Linked DNA regions of Homo sapiens. The protein of the gene in region 1 purifies or fractionates together with the protein of each later gene. This does not show direct contact. Each region holds a gene or a part of one and is shown in the gene's direction. Other genes may lie near its edges.

The links.
Region 2: the proteins of NSMF (region 1) and RNF123 purify together in Homo sapiens (affinity purification with mass spectrometry; 2 studies listed by BioGRID and IntAct, with this or other methods). This does not show direct contact.
Region 3: the proteins of NSMF (region 1) and KCTD15 purify together in Homo sapiens (affinity purification with mass spectrometry; 2 studies listed by BioGRID and IntAct, with this or other methods). This does not show direct contact.
Region 4: the proteins of NSMF (region 1) and NDUFAF5 purify together in Homo sapiens (affinity purification with mass spectrometry; 2 studies listed by BioGRID and IntAct, with this or other methods). This does not show direct contact.

Annotation. Positions count from the first base shown.
Region 1 is NC_000009.12:137,449,335-137,452,898, reverse strand, and holds part of NSMF (NMDA receptor synaptonuclear signaling and neuronal migration factor), read left to right. Parts: intron 1-79; coding exon 80-163; intron 164-312; coding exon 313-346; intron 347-463; coding exon 464-534; intron 535-2,643; coding exon 2,644-2,723; intron 2,724-2,812; exon of another isoform or gene 2,813-2,873; coding exon 2,874-2,976; intron 2,977-3,224; coding exon 3,225-3,300; intron 3,301-3,407; coding exon 3,408-3,505; 3' UTR 3,506-3,564. UniProt on the Homo sapiens protein: Couples NMDA-sensitive glutamate receptor signaling to the nucleus and triggers long-lasting changes in the cytoarchitecture of dendrites and spine synapse processes. Part of the cAMP response element-binding protein (CREB) shut-off signaling pathway.
Region 2 is NC_000003.12:49,696,046-49,699,609, forward strand, and holds part of RNF123 (E3 ubiquitin-protein ligase RNF123), read left to right. Parts: intron 1-1,097; coding exon 1,098-1,177; intron 1,178-1,317; coding exon 1,318-1,412; intron 1,413-1,839; coding exon 1,840-1,894; intron 1,895-2,006; coding exon 2,007-2,092; intron 2,093-2,394; coding exon 2,395-2,481; intron 2,482-2,709; coding exon 2,710-2,777; intron 2,778-2,934; coding exon 2,935-3,060; intron 3,061-3,422; coding exon 3,423-3,537; intron 3,538-3,564. UniProt on the Homo sapiens protein: Catalytic subunit of the KPC complex that acts as E3 ubiquitin-protein ligase. Promotes the ubiquitination and proteasome-mediated degradation of CDKN1B which is the cyclin-dependent kinase inhibitor at the G0-G1 transition of the cell cycle.
Region 3 is NC_000019.10:33,803,364-33,806,927, forward strand, and holds part of KCTD15 (BTB/POZ domain-containing protein KCTD15), read left to right. Parts: intron 1-3,495; exon of another isoform or gene 3,496-3,499; coding exon 3,500-3,564. UniProt on the Homo sapiens protein: During embryonic development, it is involved in neural crest formation. Inhibits AP2 transcriptional activity by interaction with its activation domain.
Region 4 is NC_000020.11:13,791,512-13,795,075, forward strand, and holds part of NDUFAF5 (arginine-hydroxylase NDUFAF5, mitochondrial), read left to right. Parts: intron 1-1,648; coding exon of another isoform or gene 1,649-1,668; coding exon 1,669-1,716; intron 1,717-3,326; coding exon 3,327-3,430; intron 3,431-3,564. UniProt on the Homo sapiens protein: Arginine hydroxylase that mediates hydroxylation of 'Arg-111' of NDUFS7 and is involved in the assembly of mitochondrial NADH:ubiquinone oxidoreductase complex (complex I, MT-ND1) at early stages. May also have methyltransferase activity.

The DNA of each region.
Region 1 (3,564 bases):
GGTAGCCTCATGGGGGCTCCCACAGCCCCTTGGCTTTTGGATGGGCCTGGGGCCCCTGAGCAGCTCTTTGTCTCCGCAGCTCATTTCCTCCAAGGTGCCCAAGGCTGAGTACATCCCCACTATCATCCGCCGGGATGACCCCTCCATCATCCCCATCCTCTACGTGAGTCCCGCCCCGGGCCTGCCCCCAACAGATGCCCTCTTGCGGCCCCACCCTGGGCCAGCGCCGGCACCCCAGGTCCCCAGGGTGCTGTGGCGCTGCTGGCTCTGACGCAGCCTTGATGTGGCCTTGTGGCCTGTGTCTGTCCCCAGGACCATGAGCACGCAACCTTCGAGGACATCCTTGGTATGTGCCTCATTGGCCTTCTCTCTGCTGGTTCCAGGCCTGGGAGGGGCAGACACAGGTGGGGGTGCCCCTGGGGCTGGGGTGGGGGCCGCAGCACTCACACCCGCTCTCCCACAGAGGAGATAGAGAGGAAGCTGAACGTCTACCACAAGGGAGCCAAGATCTGGAAAATGCTGATTTTCTGCCAGGTGGGGCTCAGTGCTCGTCTCCTGACCAGGAGAAGAATCGTGGTGGGGCAGGGGAAGACCAAGGGGAAGAAGTCAAGTTGGGGGAGACCAAGGGGAAGAGGTTGGGGTGGGGAGACCAAGGGGAAGAGGTGTTTGTGGGGGAGACCAAGGGGAAGAGGCGTGGGGGTGGAGACCAAGGGGAAGAGGTGTGGCTGGGGGAGACCAAGGGGAAGAGGCTGGGGTGGGAAGACCAAGGGGAAGAGGTGTTTGAGGGGGAGACCAAGGGGAAGAGGTGTGGCTGGGGGAGACCAAGGGGAAGAGGCTGGGGTTGGGGAAGACCAAGGAGAAGAGGCGTAGATGTTGAGGGGGAAAGATCAAGGAGAAGAGGCGTGTGGCGGGGGGAAACGAAGGGGAAGAGGCGTGTGGCTGGGGGAGACCAAGGGGAAGAGGTGTGGCTGGGGGAGACCAAGGGGAAGAGGCTGGGGTTGGGGAAGACCAAGGAGAAGAGGTGTAGACATTGAGGGGGAAAGATCAAGGAGAAGAGGCGTGTGGCGGGGGGGAAATGAAGGGGAAGGGGCGTGTGGCTGGGGGAGACCAAGGGGAAGAGGTGTTTGGGGGGTAGATCAAGGAGAAGAGACGTGGCGGGGGAAGACCAAGGGGAAGAGGCGTGTGGCGGGGGAGATCAAGGGGAAGAGACGTGGCGGGGGAGATCAAGGGGAAGAGACGTGGCGGGGGAGATCAAGGGGAAGAGACGAGGGGCAGGGGAAGATCAAGGGGAAGAGGCGTGTGGAGGGGGAGATCAAGGGGAAGAGGCATGGTGGGGAGATCAAGGGGAAGAGGCGTGTGGCCAAGGAAGACCAAGGGGAAGAGACGTGGCGGGGGAGACCAAGGGGAAGAGGCGTGTGGTGGGGAAGACCAAGGGGAAGAGGCGTGGAGGGCAGAACAAGGGGAAGAGGCGTGTGGCGCGGGAGATCAAGGGGAAGAGACGTGGCGGGGGAGATCAAGGGGAAGAGACGTGGCGGGGGAGATCAAGGGGAAGAGACGAGGGGCAGGGGAAGATCAAGGGGAAGAGGCGTGTGGAGGGGGAGATCAAGGGGAAGAGGCATGGTGGGGAGATCAAGGGGAAGAGGCGTGTGGCCAAGGAAGACCAAGGGGAAGAGACGTGGCGGGGGAGACCAAGGGGAAGAGGCGTGTGGTGGGGAAGACCAAGGGGAAGAGGCGTGGAGGGCAGAACAAGGGGAAGAGGCGTGTGGCGCGGGAGATCAAGGGGAAGAGACGTGTGGCAGGGGAAGATCAAGGGGAAGAGGCGTGTGGAGGGGGAGATCAAGGGGAAGAGACGTGGAGGGGAGATCAAGGGGAAGAGACGTGGTGGGGGAGATCAAGGGGAAGAGACGTGGCAGGGGAGATCAAGGGGAAGAGACGAGGGGCAGGGGAAGATCAAGGGGAAGAGGCGTGTGGAGGGGGAGATCAAGGGGAAGAGGCGTGGGGGGGAGATCAAGGGGAAGAGGTGTGGGGGGGAGATCAAAAGGAAGAGGCGTGGCGGGCAGGTCAAGGGGAAGAGGCATTGGGGGGAGATCAAGGAGAAGAGCGTGTGGTGGGGGAGATCAAGGGGAAGAGGCATTGGGGGGAATTAAGAGGAAGAGGCGAGGGGGGGAGATCAAGAGGAAGAGGCGGGGGAAGATCAAGGGGAAGAGGCGTGTGGTGGGGGAAATCAAAGGGAAGAGGCGTGTGGTGGGGGAGATCAAAGGGAAGAGGCGTGTGGTGGGGGAGATCAAAGGGAAGAGGCGTGTGGTGGGGGAGATCAAGGGGAAGAGGCGTGTGGTGGGGGAGATCAAAGGGAAGAGGTGTGTGGTGGGGGAGATCAAAGGGAAGAGGCGTGTGGTGGGGGAGATCAAAGGGAAGAGGCATGTGGTGGGGGAGATCAAGGGGAAGAGGCGTGGGGGGGAGATCAAAGGGAAGAGGCGTGTGGTGGGGGAGATCAAGGGAAAGACGTGTGGTGGGGGAGATCAAGGGGAAGAAGCGTGGCCGGGGGATGAAGACCAAAACTACCTCCCACGCATGTGCGTGGGTGCATGTGTGTCGGAGAGGGGGAGGAAGGAGGAGCAGATGCCTGACCACAGCTTCTTACAGGGAGGTCCTGGACACCTCTATCTCCTCAAGAACAAGGTGGCCACCTTTGCCAAAGTGGAGAAGGAAGAGGACATGATTCAGTGAGAAGCCGGGTGCCCTGGGCGCGGGGAGGGCTGGAGGCAGAGTCCAGGCCCTGGCATGTCCCTCCCCCACAGCCCCTCCTCCACGGTCCGCTCTGTGGAGTGGGGTGCCTGTCCCCTGCCACTGGGTGACCCACCCCTCTCCACCAGCTTCTGGAAGCGGCTGAGCCGCCTGATGAGCAAAGTGAACCCAGAGCCGAACGTCATCCACATCATGGGCTGCTACATTCTGGGGAACCCCAATGGAGAGAAGGTACAGTGACCCCCAAGCCCCACCCCAGACCTCTGGAAACCCCCGACGTGGACAGACAGGGCAGAGCCTTCCATGTTTCCTGGCATTTTTTTTCCTTCCCCCGGGCATTCCCCTAGAAATCCTTTATGCCTGAGCCCAGCCAGGTTTGGGGGGTCTGAAAAAAGAGGGTGGGCCCTGCTCCCCATCTCCTCCCCGCTCCTCCTTCCCCATCTCTCTGCCTCGGACTCATGGCACCCCGCTTCCTCCAGCTGTTCCAGAACCTCAGGACCCTCATGACTCCTTATAGGGTCACCTTCGAGTCACCCCTGGAGCTCTCAGCCCAAGGTGAGTTACCCAGGCTGGGCCGAAGCTCTGCAGCCACTGCGGGGCCACGGTGGGGTGGGATCCCCAGGGCCGGCCAGGCCTGAGCCTCCTGCCCCCGCTCCGCCCAGGGAAGCAGATGATCGAGACGTACTTTGACTTCCGGTTGTATCGCCTGTGGAAGAGCCGCCAGCACTCGAAGCTGCTGGACTTTGACGACGTCCTGTGAGGGGCAGAGGCCTCCGCCCAGTCACCATCAGGCCACTCCCTCTGCACCGGGACCTGGGG
Region 2 (3,564 bases), on another chromosome or scaffold:
AACATGTCCCATTCAACACAGACTCCCCTGGCTGGGTGGTGGCGAGACTGGAATCTGCCCCAAAGGAACCACAGGCCTAGGGGCAAGGGTTGGACTAGGTGGCCTTGGTACTGACCACTTTGGGAACCAGCATTTCTCCCAGCCTTCTTCTTCCAGACATCATCAGCACAGCCACCTTTGAGAGCGGACAGGTTATGTGCTATGCAGACAGCACTTGTTATTCCCTGGGCTCTTCACAGCATCTCTAACATAAGTCACTATTCTGTTTTTACAGATGAAGGAATTAAGACTTAGAGAGGGCTACTTTTTTTTTTTTTTTTTGAGACAGAGTCTTGCTCTGTCACCCAGACTAGAGTGCAGTGGCACGATCATGGCTCACTGCAACCTCCGCCTCCCAGGTTCAAGCAATTCTCCTGCCTCCGCCTCCCAAGTAGCTGGTATTACAGGCACATGCCACCGCGCCCAGCATTTTTAGTAGAGTCGCAATTTCACCATGTTGGCCAGGCTGGTCTTGAACTACTGACCTCGTGATCTGCCCGCCTCAGCCTCCCAAAGTGCTGGGATTACAGGCATGAGCCACCGCACCTGGCCACATACTTTTTTTTTTTTTTTTTTTGAGACAGAGTCTTACTCTTGTTGCCCGGGCTGAAGTACAATGACACGATCTTGGCTTACTACAACCTCTGCCCCACCAAGGTTCAAGCTATTCTCCTGCCTCTGTCTCCCGAGTAGCTGGGATTATACGCATGCGCCACCACACTCAGCTAATTTTTGTATTTTTAGTAGGGATGGGGTTTCACCATGTGGCCAGGCTGGTCTCGAACTCCTGACCTCAGGTGATCTGCCCGCCTCGGCCTCCCAAAGTGCTGGGATTACAGGCATGGGCCACCACACCCGGCCTGGACTGGTTATACTTTTGAGTTTAGTGGAGAATTCGGCCTTCTGACCTCCTGCATGCCAGAGTCTAGGACTAGGCACAGCCCTTTTTCTGGAGTCTAGGCAGCCCCCCTGTGAGCTCAGGGGAAAGGATGGGATTTAGTGTCATCTGGCTGATTTCAAGGACTTGTGGACCCCTGGCAGCCTCTCACTCTCCCCAGGAAACCCCTGAACTTCCAGAACCTGCCAGAACATTTGGACCAGTTGCTACAGGTGGACAATGAGGAGGAGGAAAGCCAGGGTATGTGGCCACCTCTGGAGTGGGGTTGGGAGGTGCAGAGCTGGGACGTAGCGGGCCTGGAGACGTCTGGTGAGCTCAGGACACCCTATGCATCCTGTCAAATGCTCCACCCTGCCTGACCCCACCTCTCCTCTTTTCAGGACAGGTTGAAGGGCGGCTTGGCCCATCCACTGTGGTCCTGGACCACACAGGCGGCTTTGAGGGGCTTCTCCTGGTGGATGATGACCTGCTGGGGGTGAGTGAGGGTGAGGTGTGGAGACCCAGGTCCAGCCCCTTCTGACATAGCCCCAGGCTCCTCCTGATGTGGCCCTAGTCTCTCTACTCATCTGATGGGGCTGCAGCCAAAACTTGTCCTGACGTGGCCCCAGACCATTGTGTTCTCAGTCCTCAAACTCTCCCACTAAAGCCCTGAAACAGTCTTGATGTGGACTCAGCCCCCAGCCCTTCCCAGCACAGCCCTGAGTCCCTCTCTCATCCTGCCTTGGCCCAGGATCCTTCCTGATACAAGCCTACCCGCTCCCACCGTCCTCAGGCACAGTGCAGTGTTGGCCGCCACAGGCAAATACCACCAGGGCTGGCTCAGTTGGGGATGGGGTCTTTTTCCCTTGGGGAGATGCTCTGTGTGCCTGGGAGCTAGCCCACCACCCCTCTTCTTCACCCAGGTGATTGGACACAGCAACTTTGGCACCATCCGCTCTACCACATGCGTGTACAAAGGTGAGACCTTACCCTGCTGTGGCCTAGGTAGTGAGGAGAAAGTTTAAGGGCCCAGGCATGAGGCAAGAGGCAGTCTTTGTCCACCTCGTGGCCCTAACTCAGCTCTTTCCAGGGAAATGGCTCTACGAGGTCCTCATCTCCTCCCAGGGGCTCATGCAGATCGGCTGGTGCACCATCAGCTGCCGCTTCAACCAGGAGGTACACGTTGGGGAGGGGACCCCTCCCTGGGCCCAGGGAGAGCTTCTCCTGCCACAGGCCTCATCAGGTCTCCAGATCCCCTCAGAACTGCCTAGGACCCTAACTAACCTGGACTGCCCTCTGGAGAAGAAACGTGTCCCACCCAATCCCAGGCACCCCAGCTCAGAGAATACCTCTTACTCTTTCCCTCAGATCATCTGTTCCCTTCTGTAGAGCCATATGCATCCAAGGCTGGTGATTGGTGGGCTCTGGCCCAGACCCTGCCTGCCTCACCAGGGACCTCATAGGCATTTCCTCCCTAGGAGGGGGTTGGAGATACACACAACTCCTATGCCTATGATGGCAACCGCGTGCGCAAGTGGAATGTGACCACAACGAATTATGGCAAGGTGAGAGCCAAGCCCCTGTGGGTCATCCGCCCCATGACTGTTACTACAGCTTATTTGGAGCCACTGGGCAGCCATAAGGGACTACAGGGCACCAGGGAAGGGTCAGGGACCCAGGTCCTTTGTCCTTGTGGCTAGTCTCCCTTGGGTGGTTCTGGAAACGCAGCTGGGGTTCAGAGTCAGCAGGCTGCTGGGCTTCTGTGCATCTGGTGAGGCCTCCTCTCATGGCAGGCGTGGGCAGCGGGGGACATCGTGAGCTGCCTGATTGACCTGGATGATGGCACTCTGTCCTTCTGCCTGTGAGTTTCCTATCTCTATGCACAGGCCTGGCCCCTGGGGCCTCCCCAGACTGCCCCCAGTTTCCTGGGCCCTGTAAGGGGCCAGACTGAGTTTGATAGCCTGAGGGTGGGCAGCCACATGCTTAGCACTGGCTCACAGACCCACCCTTCTCCCCAGGAACGGTGTATCACTGGGCACTGCCTTTGAGAACCTGTCCAGGGGCCTGGGTATGGCCTACTTCCCAGCCATCAGCCTCTCTTTCAAGGAGTCCGTGGCCTTCAACTTTGGCAGCCGTCCTCTGCGATATCATTTTGTGAAGATGGCTGTGGGCTGCTCAGAAGCTCTTGGGGAGGCTGGGATGAGGGGCTCCCTACCCCAGGGGTGCCATGGGCTGGTGGCAGGCCCTGGCTGCTGCAGAGTTAGTGGGGGGCCATGTAGAGTGTCGAAGAAAACTTTCCTCGCAGCAGCCTGGTTGGTTGGGTGCCCTTGTCTCCACTGAACAGATGAGGAATGTGAAGCATCCTCCCTAGGGAGAATAAGTGGGCAAGTTGTGATGCAAACCAGCCCTGCCCTAGAGCCCAGGCCCCGGGGTGGGGGGTGGGCAGTGGAGAGGGAGTAGGCATGTCTGAGCCACAGATAAGGCGTTGCTGGCTTAACTCTGGCACCTACCCAGTGGCAGGCTACCGGCCCCTGCAGGACCCACCGAGTGCTGACCTGGTGCGGGCACAGAGGTTGCTGGGCTGCTTCCGGGCAGTGCTGAGTGTGGAGCTGGACCCTGTGGTGAGCTGGGGTCTGGGCCAGGCGGGG
Region 3 (3,564 bases), on another chromosome or scaffold:
CTGGAAAAAATCAATCTCACCTAGTGTCACTGATCTAGGAGACACCTGGAGATGGAGGACTAAGAGTGCTGTGGTCCTCAGGGGGTTTCTGGATGGTGAAGATGACCTGCCCTAGGCAGCATTGTAAAAGCTGGGACCTCTACCCTCGGCTCCCCTGAGAACTCTGCCTGAGCCTCTGGGTCTCGGCGGTTGGGGTGGCCTGGGTGCTGGAGAGTCTCGTGCTGGGTGACTCCTCTGGTCTGCCTAGGAGCAGTCACTGGTCCTCACCCGAGACAGCCAAGCACAGCCGGGGCTGGGAGTGGATTCCCTGGGCCGGCCCCCTTGCTGGTGTCCTGCCTGCTTGACCCCCGTTAGCTGCCGCCATCACAGCCACACTCTGACATCCATCCTGACTATGGGAAGCATCAAATGAAGATGGCCAGGAGCTTCAGAACTCTTAAAACCTGGTGCCTGAAACAGCCAGGAAATTGGAGCCAGAGCTTAAAAAAAAAAAGGAAATAAACGAGAAGACGAAGGCCATCCTGATGCTCCCCCTTGTGCACACAGGGCAGGTGGTTGGAGGCATCTTTTCTGCCCCTGAGGGTCCCACCTGCTGCAGCGTGAACTGGCCACCTCATTCCATGGAGGACTTCGGAAGCCGGCCCCTCAAACCCTGCATCCTCTCTCAGAGGGTGGCCTGGGCCATTTTCCACAGGGAACGTGGAGCCCCTGACAGAGCTGGGAACTCATACCTGCAGGGCTGAGAATGGCTGAGGGCTCCTCCATGGTGATTATCCTCACCTTTCCTCAACCTGCTCACGTCCTTGGCAGCCTCAGACGCTGAGGGCATGAAAGGCCTCTGTCCTGGGAGAGGCGGTACAGCTGCCGCTTGATCCAGGAGCCTATACTGAACCATGGAAAGATCTAGAATCAGCCTGTCCTGAAATAAGGCAGATGGAAAACCTTCTAAACTTGGACCGATGAGACAACCTAGAACCCATCCAGCCCTGGAATGTGGGTGCATCAGGAGTCTTCTAGACCAACAGGACCAGCTAGAGCCTCAGCCAGACCTGACGTCAGAAGGGTTGGGAACTCAGCCAGGCCTAGAATGCTGCCTGCTTACATGGACTTTGGAGCTCCACTGGGAAGGGTGGGGAGAGTTCCCAGGAGGCTGAGGGTTTGGATCTGCTGACTCACCTTGGATGTAGCTCTTACTTCCCACCGGTGCCACACATGGACCTCAGCCACCTGCCAACCACTGCCCATGGTATCTGGCAGCCTGGGACAGACCCATCTGTCTCCAGGAATGCTGGGTGGCCCTCACTCTGACATCTGGATGCCCACGCTCTACTAGGCCAGGTCCTAGGGCCTTTGTAACTGGAGCCAGCCGTGGAACCCACAGCCTTTCCAGCAGGGGCTGTGACCTGCAGTGCCATTGTCACCAGGCCTAGGGGGTTGACAGGGCTCATCGGCCTTTGGAGCTCTGAGATGAGTTGTATCTGGGTGGCTGCAGCTCTGGGTCCACAGACTCGGGCTCACAGCAGACTCTGACCTCCCCATGCCCATCCACGAGACAGCCTTGCCCTTTTCTTTCTTTCTTTTAAGCGACAGCGTTTGTCTTTCTTGGCCAGGCTGGAGTACGTGGTGTGATCTCGGCTCATTGCAACCTCAAACGCATGGACTCAAGTGATCCTCCCACCTCAGCCTCCCAAGTGGACTACAAGTGCATGCCACCATACCCAGCTAATTTTTAAATTTTTTGTAGAGATGGGGTCTTGCTGCGTTGCCTAGGCTGGTCTCGAACCCCTGGCCTCAAGCAGTCCTCCACCTTAGCTTCCCAAAGTGCTGGGATTACAGGTGTGAGCCACGGTGCCCAGCTAAACCGTGCCCTTTATACTACCCTGCTAGGAGAGAAACCTGCACCGTGTTCCCAGAGACTCCATACCCGGGCAGACCATCATGGCTGATGCATTGAGTGTGCTGGGCCATCAGAGCATAGGATGGTGTGGACGGGAGGCCCTGAGGGCAGACTTGGGGGCTCTGACTCCCTCAGCTCCTGCCCAGCTAGTGTGTCCTGGGTGCAAGTGGCAGTGGGGCAGGGCCCTGGAGACGGCTGACTTGGAGTGGACAGAGGAGTGGGCTGCTGTTAGAACAGGGGGCATCCCTGCAGGGGTCCCTGCTGGTGCAGGCAGAGAGTGAGGGGCTTAGGCTCCAGATTGTGTGCAGGCCGGGCTGGGAAGCCTAGGTCCCAAGTTGGAGCTACTGTTCTCCCAGCTGTGCAGAGAAGCTGCCACCTTGGCAGGGTCCAGCTGGGCAGGAGTGTGGCCCTGCCTGCTGAAGGATGTGGTGGTGCTGCCCTTGGGGAAATGATGCCAACTTCCCTCCTGTTCCCAAACCAAGCCCTTGGCTACTCCCACCCCTCTTTAGGGTTCCTAGTTATCCCTAGCTCGACCTGGGGTCTGCCAGGGCAGTTGCCAAACCAGAGCTGGCCACCCTGGGCACTGGGGAGGTGGTATCAGCCCTGGCTCTGAGGCCTGGCTCCTTCTCCCCGGAGTGGACAGGGACAGGCATCAGGGGCTCCCCAAGACCCTTCTCCTGGTCTTGCATTTGTTAGAACCATTGCCCTTCAGAGGACAGGGTACCGGCACCTGCCTTCTCTCCAGTCCCCATCCGCCACCACTAGGTGTGGTGTGCATACGCTCTGGCATGTGTGCACATATGTATGCACTGTGGTGCATGTGTGTGCATGGTTTCTGTGTGCGTGTGTGTATGCCTGTGTTGTGGCATGTGTGCAAGGGCCCTGTTGCATGTGTGTGCTGTGGCACACTTGCCATCCCTCCTGTCTGCCTCTGTTTCTCCCTGTGGGCTCCCTGAGTGAGCGGCAGTAGGGGATTTGTGCCGTCATGTCTCTGGGTGCCTGGTGTTGACAGGTGTGTGTCCTTTCCTGGATGTGTCTGGATCTGCATGATATGTGTGTGTTGGGAAGGAAGGGACCATGTGACCCTGTGCCTGTTGCACAGGCCTGTGTGTCTCACACTCGTTTACATGGGTTGGGTGGGGAGGATGTATGTCCTGGCTCGTTTACTGGGTGTGTGGCTGTTGGCCGGGGTGTTGGATGGTTCATGTGCATTTTCTGGGTGGGTCTATCTGGCAAGGGTGTGTGCACCAGGCCTGTGACCAGCTGGTTTGTGTGTAGGGGGTAAGGTGCCTGTGTCTTGCTATACCTTTCCAGGCCTGTAACATAACGTGTGTTGGCAGGCTGGTGTGTACAGCTGGGTGTGTCCCTCTCTGGCTGTGACTTGCGGGTGTAGGCAGGATGTGTGGTGTGTCCTGTTAACTGTAGCCTGGCTGCCCCAGGTGTGTGCAGATGTTGTCAGGCCTGGAACAGTTCCAGAGTCACCCATGTCAGGTCCCTCGCCCCTCCAGCCGTGTGGGCCCTCAGGAGTGGGGGCGGGGTGTGGGAAGACAGGCAGACTTGTCCCCATCCCTTCAGACATCCCACCTCGCCTGTCTCTCCCAGGATAAGCCGCCTCTTCAATGGCACTGAACCCATCGTCCTGGACAGTTTGAAGCAACATTATTTCA
Region 4 (3,564 bases), on another chromosome or scaffold:
TTCTGCAATTGTACTTAGGGTTGGGAGAAAGAGGAAGAGCCAATAAAGATGCCAGGAATAGTAAGATGGAAAGTGTCTTAGTAAGGTATCTTTTGATTGTTGAAAGCAAAAATGTGCTGAAGCCAGTTTAAACACAGAGACATTTGTTACAGAGAGGCTCTTATGTAACTCAGGGATCCAGAAATAGAGCCAGGCCTCACAAGAGATGGGAACTTTGAAACACCATAACAATGTTCCTCCTGTTCGCATGCACTCTGGTACTACATGAATGCTGTCTGGTTGCCTTCATTCTTTTTACTCCCTGTAGTCTATCCATAGTAGTGTTCATCAGTGTGTGTGGCCCCATATGAATATGCTACACCCAAGGGTAGCTGAAGCTAGCTTAGGCCAGCCTGTGAGAGCCAATTGTTAGCATCTCTTCCCAACCTCTGTTCTGTGACATCATATTGATAGCTTGACATCAGCCCTGGTGGGAATATTTATACCATGGAAGTTGGCAAATGCTACAAAGCAGTCCCCAACCAAGAGCCAGCACACCACTGCCTATACCCTGAAGTCTAAATGTTCTTCCAACTCCAGGGACCTCTGCTATTATCTCGAAGTCTCTTAGTTCAAATTTTCAAGTGAGAGACAGGGATAGATAATCCTGTCCATCTAATTCTTCACCCCTCACAGGAGTGTGCTGGAGCTGGCTCATGAGAGCTATTGAGCACTCTTCCCAGCTCCATATTTAGCAACATCATGTTGGTAGCATGAAATCTTTCCAAGTTTCAGACAGGGAAGTGGGTGTGGGTAAAGTAAAAAAGGATTGGCTTCTCTAATAGAGAAGGGCAGCCAGAGTAGAAGCTTCTGAAGAAGCTTCTAGTAGGCTGTTGACAATGCTGTGCTTCAAAGAGGTCAGGTGAAGCAGGACTGAGAGCAGTGAGCACAGACTGCAGATAGTGTTAGCAGAGCAGTGAAAGCAAAGAGATACCCAGAATGGGGAGAAAGAATCTAGGAAGAAGTAGAGTTGTGGATTATAAACCAAACAACCAGAAGGTACCTAGAGGGAGGAGATTTTTTGTAATTGGAAAGCTTGTGCCTGTTGTAAGGTGGAGGAAGGAGACACAGAAGACACAGACTAAAGATTGATAGAGATGGAGATGGAGAGAGCAGGATCCCGGAGAAAAGAGGGCTGAGGGGGAAAGAAAGTGTTTTTCTGGTGCAGAAATAGCACAGTCTCCTTTCCTTTTGGAAGGGAGAGAGGGTAGGCGAAACAGGGAAAATGGAACCCTAAGCCTCTACCTGTAAGTCTTTCTTTACTCTGTAAACTCTTTGGATGAACAACTAAAAGGCGGGAAACTCATAGCAGGTCCTTTGTGACACAGGAGTGGGGAAATAGCTCTTAGCATGTTATGCCATGGAAAAGTTAACACGGAAGCCCTCACCCAGTGTAGTAAATTCGGAATGTTGAATACGCATACTCATGTTCTCTATTTTATTACATATAGTTAAATATAGCAAAGGATATGTGTTATTAAAAGTATTTGTGTACCATACTGGTTTTATGCAGAAATATACCTTTACAAAGCTGAAAATTAAAATGTAATTAACACTTTTACCTTTAGAAATGTCAGCAATTGTTTGTGACTGGATTTGTTTGTTTCAGCTTCAGTTATTCCATTGCAGGAAACTATTGGAAAGTTTTTCCAAGCTGACATTGCAGAAAATGCTTTGGTAGGTAGCTTTTTAATACTGTTGGTTTCTAATCTCGTGATGTGTTTTCTCATATTTTATTTCTTTATTTTTATTTCCTTCAAACTAGCTTTCTTTTCTGACACATGAAAAGGAACTCATACAGGAAATATCAAGAACAAAGGAAAAATCACCCCTATCACCCCTAGTCCTACCATTCAGAGGCAACCATTGGTGGCACTTGGTCTCCACATTTGCAGACATATAACTGTCCCCGCCCCCCCAACACACAACTGTGTATGAACATTACTATGCTAATATTCCATGTTATTTACGGCACATCATTTTTTTTGTCAGTGAATTTATACTTATGTGTGTCATATATCATCTTTTTAAATGGCTACATGGTATTCTAATATATGAATACTCCATAGTTTATTTAGCTAAACTTTCTATTGAAGGGCAGTTACGTTTCTAGTTTCTCAATAACCAACACTGCAGTGAAAATCCTTATGTGAAGCCACATTGTATGTTTGATTTATTTTTTTCCGTGGGTATAAATTCCTGGTAGCGGAATTTATGGATTCATTTTGATGTTCATTTAAAAATTTTTTGACATACATCTTCAGACTGCCCTTAGAAAGACTGAACAATGACAAAGGTACTTTTTACTACTTTGCTTTGGCAACACTGGGCCAGCCTTTTCGTCTGGGTCAGTCTGACAGCTGCTGATATCTTTTGACTATTGGTATTTCTTGTGAATTTTGTAAATAATTTTGTGATATGCCTGCACCTTGTCCTCTTTAGCTATCTTGTGTTTTTATTCTAGGTGATTTGTAAGAGCTTGGTTTTTAGGGATATTAATCCTTCATTGTATATGTTGTAAATATTTTCCTCAGTTGTTTACATTGTTTATTGATTTCTATTAATAGAAGTTTTTAATTAGTTTATCATCAAATATATCAGTCTTTTCCTTTACAGTTTCTGGCTTTTGAATTATGTTTACCTAGGCTTTTTCATCTAAGGGTAAAATGTCCAGTCCACCCATATTTTCATCTAGTACTTCGGTTGTTTCACTAAAACTTTCAGCCTTCTTTTTTCTTTTTTTTTTTCTGAGACAGTCTTGCACTGTTGTCCAGGCTGGAGTGCAGTGGTGCGATCTCAGCTCACTGCAACCTCCGCCTCCCGGGTTCAAGCGATACTCCTGCCTCAGCCTCCCGAGTAGCTGAGATTACAGGTGCGTGCCACCACGTCCAGCTAATTTTTGTATTTTTAGTAGAGACGTGGTTTCACCATGTTGGCCAGGCTGGTCTCGAACTCCTGACTTTCAGTGACTGCCCACCTTGGCATCCCAAAGTGCAGGGATTATAGGCGTGAGCCACCACGCCCAGCCAAACTAGCTTTCTGAGATTTGTTTTGGTGTGAGGTTGGTATCCTGTTTATGTTGTTTCAACTAGTTAGCCATTTTTTCTGGCTGATGTTAAGTCATTTAAGAAATGCTTTTTGGGTGCCTTCTCTGTGCCACCTTTGGGAAGGGGGGTAGAAACTGCCAAGTAAATATAACATTGACTTCAATTTAACAAACAGTGATTGTGTTAGTAATTGAGATTCTACATAAATGTGATTTTGATCTTTCGTTTTCTTAACATTAGAAAAATTCCTCAGAAACAGAAATACCTACTGTCAGCGTTTTAGCTGATGAAGAATTCCTTCCCTTCAAAGAAAATACATTTGACCTGGTGGTTAGCAGTTTAAGGTTGGTAATCCACTTTTTAAAAACCATATGTTATAAACAGATCATTCTTGCCATAAAGTTTTGCTATGAGGCCAGGAGCGGTGGCTCACGCCTGTAATGCTAGCACTTTGGGAGGCCGAGGCGAGTGAATCTCT